Linked DNA regions of Homo sapiens. The protein of the gene in region 1 purifies or fractionates together with the protein of each later gene. This does not show direct contact. Each region holds a gene or a part of one and is shown on either strand. Other genes may lie near its edges. The genes, in order: DAGLB and HTR2C.

Region 1 (3,824 bases):
GGCGCGATCTCAGTTCACTGCCAGCTCCGCCTCCCGGGTTCATGCCATTCTCCTACCTCAGCCTCCTGAGTAGCTGGGACTACAGGCGCCCACCACCACGCCTGGCTAATTTTTTGTATTTTTAGTAGAGACGGGCTTTTACCGTGTTAGCCAGGATGGTTTCAATCTCCTGACCTTGTGATCCGCCTGCCTCGGCCTCCCAAAGTGCTGGGATTACAGGCGTGAGCCACTGCACCCGGCCTCCAGTGCATCTTTGATGGAGTCTTCCAAGCGCGGTTTCTGGGTCAAAGGACAGATCCATGTGCTTGGTCCGCCTTGGTGTCCAGTTTGCGGTTTTAGCTGCGGGGCGTCTCTGTTGAACACATATTGTGGCTTTAGTAGGATCTGGCCAGTGAGTTGCCATAACTGACGTTTCCCCTACCCTCCCTTTAGAGAAGAGAGAACAGAGCTGAGGCCTGGGAACCTAACCCCTCAGTGTTACTGATTTCTTTCATGGAAGCCCTTGTGGGCAGTGTCATCGTAAAGCTAACATCCTCTCTCTGTTTGGAATTTCAGCAAAGCTCTGCAGGAATATTCTCAGAGCTTCATCGTGTCACTCGTCCTGGGGAAGGATGTGATTCCCAGGTAAGCCCACCTGGTGCTGTGCCCAGGGCTGGGGGGTTGGGAGTGCCAGGTCCCAGCCTCAGTGTGCCCCTTTGCTAAACAGGCTCAGTGTGACCAACTTGGAAGATCTGAAGAGAAGAATCTTGCGAGTGGTCGCGCACTGCAATAAACCCAAGGTAAGCGGGTGCCTTGTTGAGAGGGTCAGCAGGACACGGGGCCTGTCCCTGAGATCCTGTGGAGAGCCGGGAGGAATTGCACCCTCAGTGCAGGGCACTCTATGCTGTTGCTGGAAGTTCTCCTTCCACCATCTGATCAGATTCTGGGCTAGGACTCTGTGATGTCTAAGAAAGCAAATGGCTGCAGCAAGTGCGGGAAATGTCACAGGGAGGAAACAGGATCTGGGCTGGGAGCAGTGGTGTATGCCTGGAATCCCAGCACCTCAGGAGGCCAAGGCAGGAGGATCCCTTGAGGCCAACCTGGGCAACACAACAAGACCCTGTCTCTATTCTAAAAAAAAAAAAAGAAAAGAAAATACTCTGGAGGAACTGTTTGATTTTGCTTTCTGACAAACTTCTTAGTCCTGTCTTGTGACTAACAGTTTGTTAATGCCTTTTGGCTTTGTTGTCCGAAAGCTTAGAAAGCAAGGCTGCCAAATAGACCTTAAGAGGTACAGGCACATTTATCTACACTGTGGATATCATGCAGTTATTAAAATGGTGATATATGTCCACGTCAAGGGTTTTTTAACATGGTGGTAGAAATTTATGTCTGCTGGCCAGGCGCGGTGGGTCACGCTTGTAATCCCAGCCCTTTGGGAGGCTAAGGCAGGCAGATCACCTGAGTCAGGAGATCGAGACCAGAGTGGTCGACATGGCAAAACCCCGTCTCTAGTAAAAATACAAAAATGAGCCAGGGGTGGTGGTGAGTGCCTGTAATCCCAGCTACTTGGTAGGCTGAGGCAGAAGAATCGCTTGAACCCAGGAGGCCGAGGTTGCATAAGCCAAGATCGCACTCCAGCCTGTTGGATAGAGTGAGGCTCTGTCTCCAAAAAGAAGAAATTTCTGTCTGCCGATAAAGATAGATATCCATTGAAAAGTTCAAAAGAAAAAAAACTTAAAAATTATTCTTAAGAGATATGACTCATGGCAGAGAGTGGGGACAAGGAGATACAGATATATGAATTTTGACAAAAATTTGAAAATACGTATGCCAAGGGTGGTTTTGTTTAGTGTCGGTAGAGATGATTTTTACTTGTTTAATCCCTTTGTTTTCTGACCTTTCTCATGGTTTTGTTCCTAATCAGAAAGAAGAAACGCAATTTAAATTTTTCTCCTTACCAATTACCTCCCCCAGTTTTTTCTTTTTTGAGACAGGGTCTCGCTTTGTCACCCAGGCTGGAGTGCAGTGGCGCAGTCTCGGCACATTGCAGCCTCCCAAGTTCAACTGATCCTCCCACCTCAGCCTCCTGAGTAGCTGGGGCTACACTACAGGCATGCGCCAACACACCTGGCTAATTTTTGTATTTTTTGTAGAGACAGGGTCTTACCATGTTGCCCAGGCTGGTCTCAAACTTCGGGGCTGAAGCAATCTGCTTGCCTTGACCTCCCAAAGTGCTGGGATTACAGGTGTGAGCCACTGCTGTGCCCAGCCTAAAATTTTTTTTAGAAATTAGTATCTAGGGCGGGCCCGGTGGCTCACGCCTGTAATCCCAGCACTTTGGGAGGCTGAGGTGGGTGGATCACCTGAGGTCGGGAGTTCGAGACCAGCCTGACTAACATGGAGAAACCCCGTCTCTACTAAAAATACAAAAAATTAGGCCGGGCGCGGTGGCTCACGCCTGTAATCCCAGCACTTTGGGAGGCCAAGGCGGGTGGATCACGAGGTCAGGAGATAGAGACCACGGTGAAACCCCGTCTCTATTAAAAATACAAAAAATTAGCCGGGTGCGGTGGCGGGTGCCTGTAGTCCCAGCTACTCTGGTGGCTGAGGCAGGAGAATGGCGTGAACCCGGGAGGCGGAGCTTGCAGAGAGCCAAGATTGTGCCACTGCACTCCAGCCTGGGCAACAGAGTGAGACTCCGTCTCAAAAAAAAAAAAAAAAAAAAAATACAAAAAATTAGCCGGGCATGGTGGCAGGAGCCTGTAAGCCGAGCTACTCAGTAGGCTGAGGTAGGAGAATCGCTTGAATTCGGGAGGCAGATTGTGGAGCCAAGATCACGCCATTGCGCTCCAGCCCATAGAAATTAATATCTAATGCCTTTCAGGGAAGGAAGGGTAAAGCTGATTTCCAGAATTGCCGGAAAATAATTAAGGGAAATATCCCTCACAGTCTGTATGGCTTAGTTTTTAATATTGCTCCACGTGTGATGGTTTTACTGCCCAAGAGAGAGCCCACACTCATGATCTGTGACTAGGCATAGAGCCTTGTCCTGAGCCGAGGTGGCTGCCACCCAGCACAGCTCGCCGGTGCATCTTTGCTGGAGTCTTCCAAGCGGGGTTTCTGGGTCAAAGGGCAGATTCCTGTGCCTGGTCCGCCTTGGTGTTTCGGGAGGTCTCGGGTGACAGAGGGTGAGTGACAGCATTCTACTGATTGGGTCTCGCCCTCAGTACAAGATCTTGCTGCACGGTTTGTGGTACGAACTGTTTGGAGGAAACCCCAACAACTTGCCCACGGAGCTGGACGGGGGCGACCAGGAAGTCCTGACACAGCCTCTTCTGGGGGAGCAGAGCCTACTGACGCGCTGGTCCCCGGCCTACAGCTTCTCCAGCGACTCCCCACTGGACTCTTCTCCCAAGTACCCCCCTCTCTACCCTCCCGGCAGGATCATCCACCTGCAGGAGGAGGGCGCCTCGGGGCGGTGAGTGCGGCGTGGTGGGTGTGGTGGGCAGGCAGGAGCAGCGCGGGGTCAGCCCTGGGGCCGCGTGGGAGCTGTCTCTCCTTTTCTGCTTCAGGTTTGGCTGCTGCTCTGCTGCTCACTATAGCGCCAAGTGGTCACACGAAGCGGAATTCAGCAAAATACTCATAGGTCCGAAGATGCTCACCGACCACATGCCAGACATCCTGATGCGGGCCTTGGACAGCGTGGTCTCCGACAGAGCGGCCTGCGTCTCCTGTCCAGCACAAGGGGTCTCCAGTGTGGACGTGGCCTGACCAGGGCCACTGGAAACTGTCCCAGGAACGATGGACTCACGCTTTTGTCCTTAAACTGACTTACCATCCGA
Region 2 (3,824 bases), on another chromosome or scaffold:
TGGATAAAACACTAAAAGCCCTAAGAAGCTAATGAAATAGAAATTGCTATTGGCTAAGATCCAGAAAAAGACAAAAACCCAAGAAAAATGATTATGACTTCTAGTTCACTTTTGCCAATGATGCATTATAAACCTGAAGATATGACTGACAGGTGGAGACGATCATTTCAGACTCGCAAGCAATGGAGGACTAGAGTAGGAATACAGAGTCTGGCAAGGGCCAACCAACCTGAATTTAATTCTGGGATCACAAAAAAACCAGACACTAGGAATAAGGATCGACCAGGATTAAATCACCATAGACATGGAATTCAGCCCTGGTTCAAGTCATCTATGTAAATGAGAGAAATCTTGGGCCTTAAAATTGGATTAAGATGATTTCGTATTATTCAGGTTTCCAATTTTGGGGCATAAACAAACAAAAAAAACCCCATAATCCTAGATTTCAACTTATTTCTTTCAATAATTTTCAAATGCTGTCACTGAAATACAATGATATGCAGATATATGAGGAGACAATACAACATGAATCAGGTATGGGACAATAAGAGATAACAGAAATAAACTTACAAACACTTCAGATAATTGAATTATCAGACATACACTTTAAATAATCATTTGGAATGTGCACATGGAAATTACATGCTGATCTTAAACACTTCAGCAAGAAACTGCAAACTATAACAAATGACATTAAGATTTGAGAAACACCTAGAAAATATGGAACTTAAGCATAATATGAAAAACTAAGGGCCAGGCAGTGTCTTACACCTGTAATTCCAGCACTTTGGGAGGCCGATGCAGGCGGATCACTTGTGGCCAGGAGTTCAAGACTAGCCTGGACAACATGATGAAACCCCATCTCTACTAAAAATACAAAAATTAGCCAGGTATGGTAGCACACGCCTGTAATCCCAGCTACTTGGGAGGCTGTGGTGGGAGGATCACTTGACCCTCAGAGGTCAAGTCTGCAGTGAGCTGAGATCATGCCACTGCGCTCCAGCCTGGGCAACAGAGTGAGACTCTGTCACACACACAAAAAAAATTAATTAATTAAAAAATGAAAACCTAAGAACTCTGTGGCAGATTAGAGATGGCGAATTTCCAAATTTACAGAAGATTATTATAAAATATTAAAAATTAGCTGGGTATGGTGGCATGTGCCTGTAGCCCTAGCTACTCAGAAGGTTGAGGCAGGAGCATCACTTGAACTCAAGTGTCTTGAGGTTGCAGTGAGCTATGATCGTGCTATGACACTTCAGCCTTGATGAGAAAGCAACACTTTGTCTCTACAAATAAAAGATAAAATGAAATAATAAGATAAATCCAAAAGGAGTCAATAAAAGATAGAAAAATATAAAACGTATACTGAATGGCAGAATTAAAACCAAATATATCCCTAATTATATGAATTACTAAGGATTCTAAGACTGTCATATAGGCTTTCAAAAAAATAAGACAACTATATGTTACAAGAGGCATATATAAAGCATAAAGAAAGTAAAAGGATAAAAACAAACAAAAAAATTCCTCCATCTAAACACTATCCAAGAGAAAGACTGTATAGCTATATTAATATTTGTCAAAATAGACTTTTCGGCAAAAAACAAATACTCCAGTGAAAGAAGATTACTTACTATGAAAGATTTAATACATCTGGAAGACATAAGGTAATAAATTTGTATGTACATAATTATATGTAGATACATATGTAATATACATAGTATATACATTATAAAGTAAAAGAGGACAGAACTTCAGGGACAGATAGACAAGTCTACAATCATCGCATAAGATCTTAGCACATCCTTCTCAGCGATTGTATGAAAACAATTAACAAACCTGAACTCACTGACAAGTGAAGAATACATATTCCCATCATTGCACAAGAAATATTTATCAAAACTGACCATAAAGTAATTCCTCAACACATTCCAAAGGGTTGGAATAAATTGTTTATTCTTTGACTGAAATTCAAAAGAAATAGAAATGACTTCAAAATAGTAGAAAAACCTTCGTATATTTGGAAATTAAGAAATTGTTTCCCAATAAACTTTGACCTAATGGATTTCAAATCCATTGATGATTCTTCCCTAAGCTATCTATTACTAAGGTGATACAATGATAATTTTTCTCATTTTATTATTCTTCCTGCCTTTATTTGTTGGTATTATACTGTAAGGAAGTGTTTTCCCTCCAAGTCTTTGTTATTTATTAGTTCATGTTGGTGGAGACTCCTGGATTCTTTTGTATTCAGTGTAATATATATGATTCATTATTGCCCTTAATTATTTTGATGCTCAAATTGTCTCATATTTTTCTAATAAGAACTCCTTTTCATATATCCCATCAGCTTTTGAGCATTTGCCAGACTCACCTTTTACTTTCCATGCCCCAGTTCCGAAATTAGCCATTTCTTACAAGAAACCCTTTTAGTGGGCAATGGTTTTATAAAGCAGGATGCAGAAGCTCAGTATGCTCATTGCTAATAGGATATCATTGCTCCTATATATCAATACCTTTAATCCCAATTCACGAACACAGGACTCTTGCTACTTTCCAATTCTTTATTTTTCCTCATTTTTCTCACAGTGAGTAACTTTGTCCCCAAACCATTGATATATTTATTATTTATATTTTCTATATCCTACCATACAAGAAATTAATTTCAGAATTTCTATACCCATACCACTACCAATAAATGAAATGCAATGTTTAAAATTTCATTGCAATTTTATCTTTAGAATGTTTTCCACCAATGGCATATAGTCAAAGCATTGTCTTCAAAATGCTAGGATTAGTTTGAATTTTTTTTCTCTGTGGTTCTGATACCAATTGTTCACATTTAGGGATTTTGTTTTGTTTTTGCATGTATTCCCCAACCTTGTTGACTTTATTTTTTAATATGTAAAACTTTAATATGATGCTCCAACAGTCAAAACTAGGCAAATAAAATACTCAGAGAAGAGTCAGTTCCTCTTCTATTCCGTGGTTAACCCATTCATTAGTTTCTAGGGCATACTTCTTGAATTTATTTTTGCAAAAAAAAAAAAGATTATACACAAATACACGTATTGTTATTTTTCCATTCTTAAATTAAAAGTTAAAATGCTACATACAAATTAATACTTTGTTTTGCTTTGTTCTTTTACTTGGAAATATGTCCTGGAAATCACTCTATCAATTTGTAAGATGATAGATATGCACCCAACTTTATCATGTAAATGGCCTAAATACTCCAATTAAAAGCTAAATTCATTCTATTATTTTTTACACTCACTAATAATAGATTGTGTTGATATACTTTATTTAACCAATCTTCTGTGTATAATCAGGTAAGTTGTTTCCAACATTTGGAAGTTGCCAATAATTCTACTAAGAATAATTGTGTGTGTGTGTGTGTGTGTGTGTGTGTCCTTTGTGTGTGCGTGCGTGCATGTGTGTCTGTCTTGTGTGTTTGTGTGCGCGCGCGCGTGCATGTGTGTGTTTCATATTATTGGAAGTTTAACTTTTAAATAAATTCTTGCTCAAATGTATTCAGAATTTATCTTCTAAATAAATTCTTAGAGGAGGAGTTGATTGATCAAAGGGTACATGTAGTTAGGAGTTGAACCATTTTGCATTCCCACCAGCAATGCAAGAAAGCCTCTGTTTCCCCAAAGCCTTGCTAATGAAGTTTATTTTCAAACTTTTTAGATTTTGCAAATCCCATAAGTGAGAAATGTTACCTCAGTGTAATTTTAATTTGCATCTATTTTATTTGGCTGAAGTTCATATGATTAAATGTATGAAAACCACTTCAGTGCCATTGCTAAATCAGTTTT

What was found.
Region 2: the proteins of DAGLB (region 1) and HTR2C purify together in Homo sapiens (co-immunoprecipitation; one large-scale study listed by IntAct). This does not show direct contact.

Annotation. Positions count from the first base shown.
Region 1 is NC_000007.14:6,409,766-6,413,589, reverse strand, and holds part of DAGLB (diacylglycerol lipase-beta), read left to right. Parts: intron 1-555; coding exon 556-624; intron 625-706; coding exon 707-779; intron 780-3,209; coding exon 3,210-3,460; intron 3,461-3,554; coding exon 3,555-3,753; 3' UTR 3,754-3,824.
Region 2 is NC_000023.11:114,849,378-114,853,201, forward strand, and holds part of HTR2C (5-hydroxytryptamine receptor 2C isoform a precursor), read left to right. Parts: intron 1-3,824. UniProt on the Homo sapiens protein: G-protein coupled receptor for 5-hydroxytryptamine (serotonin).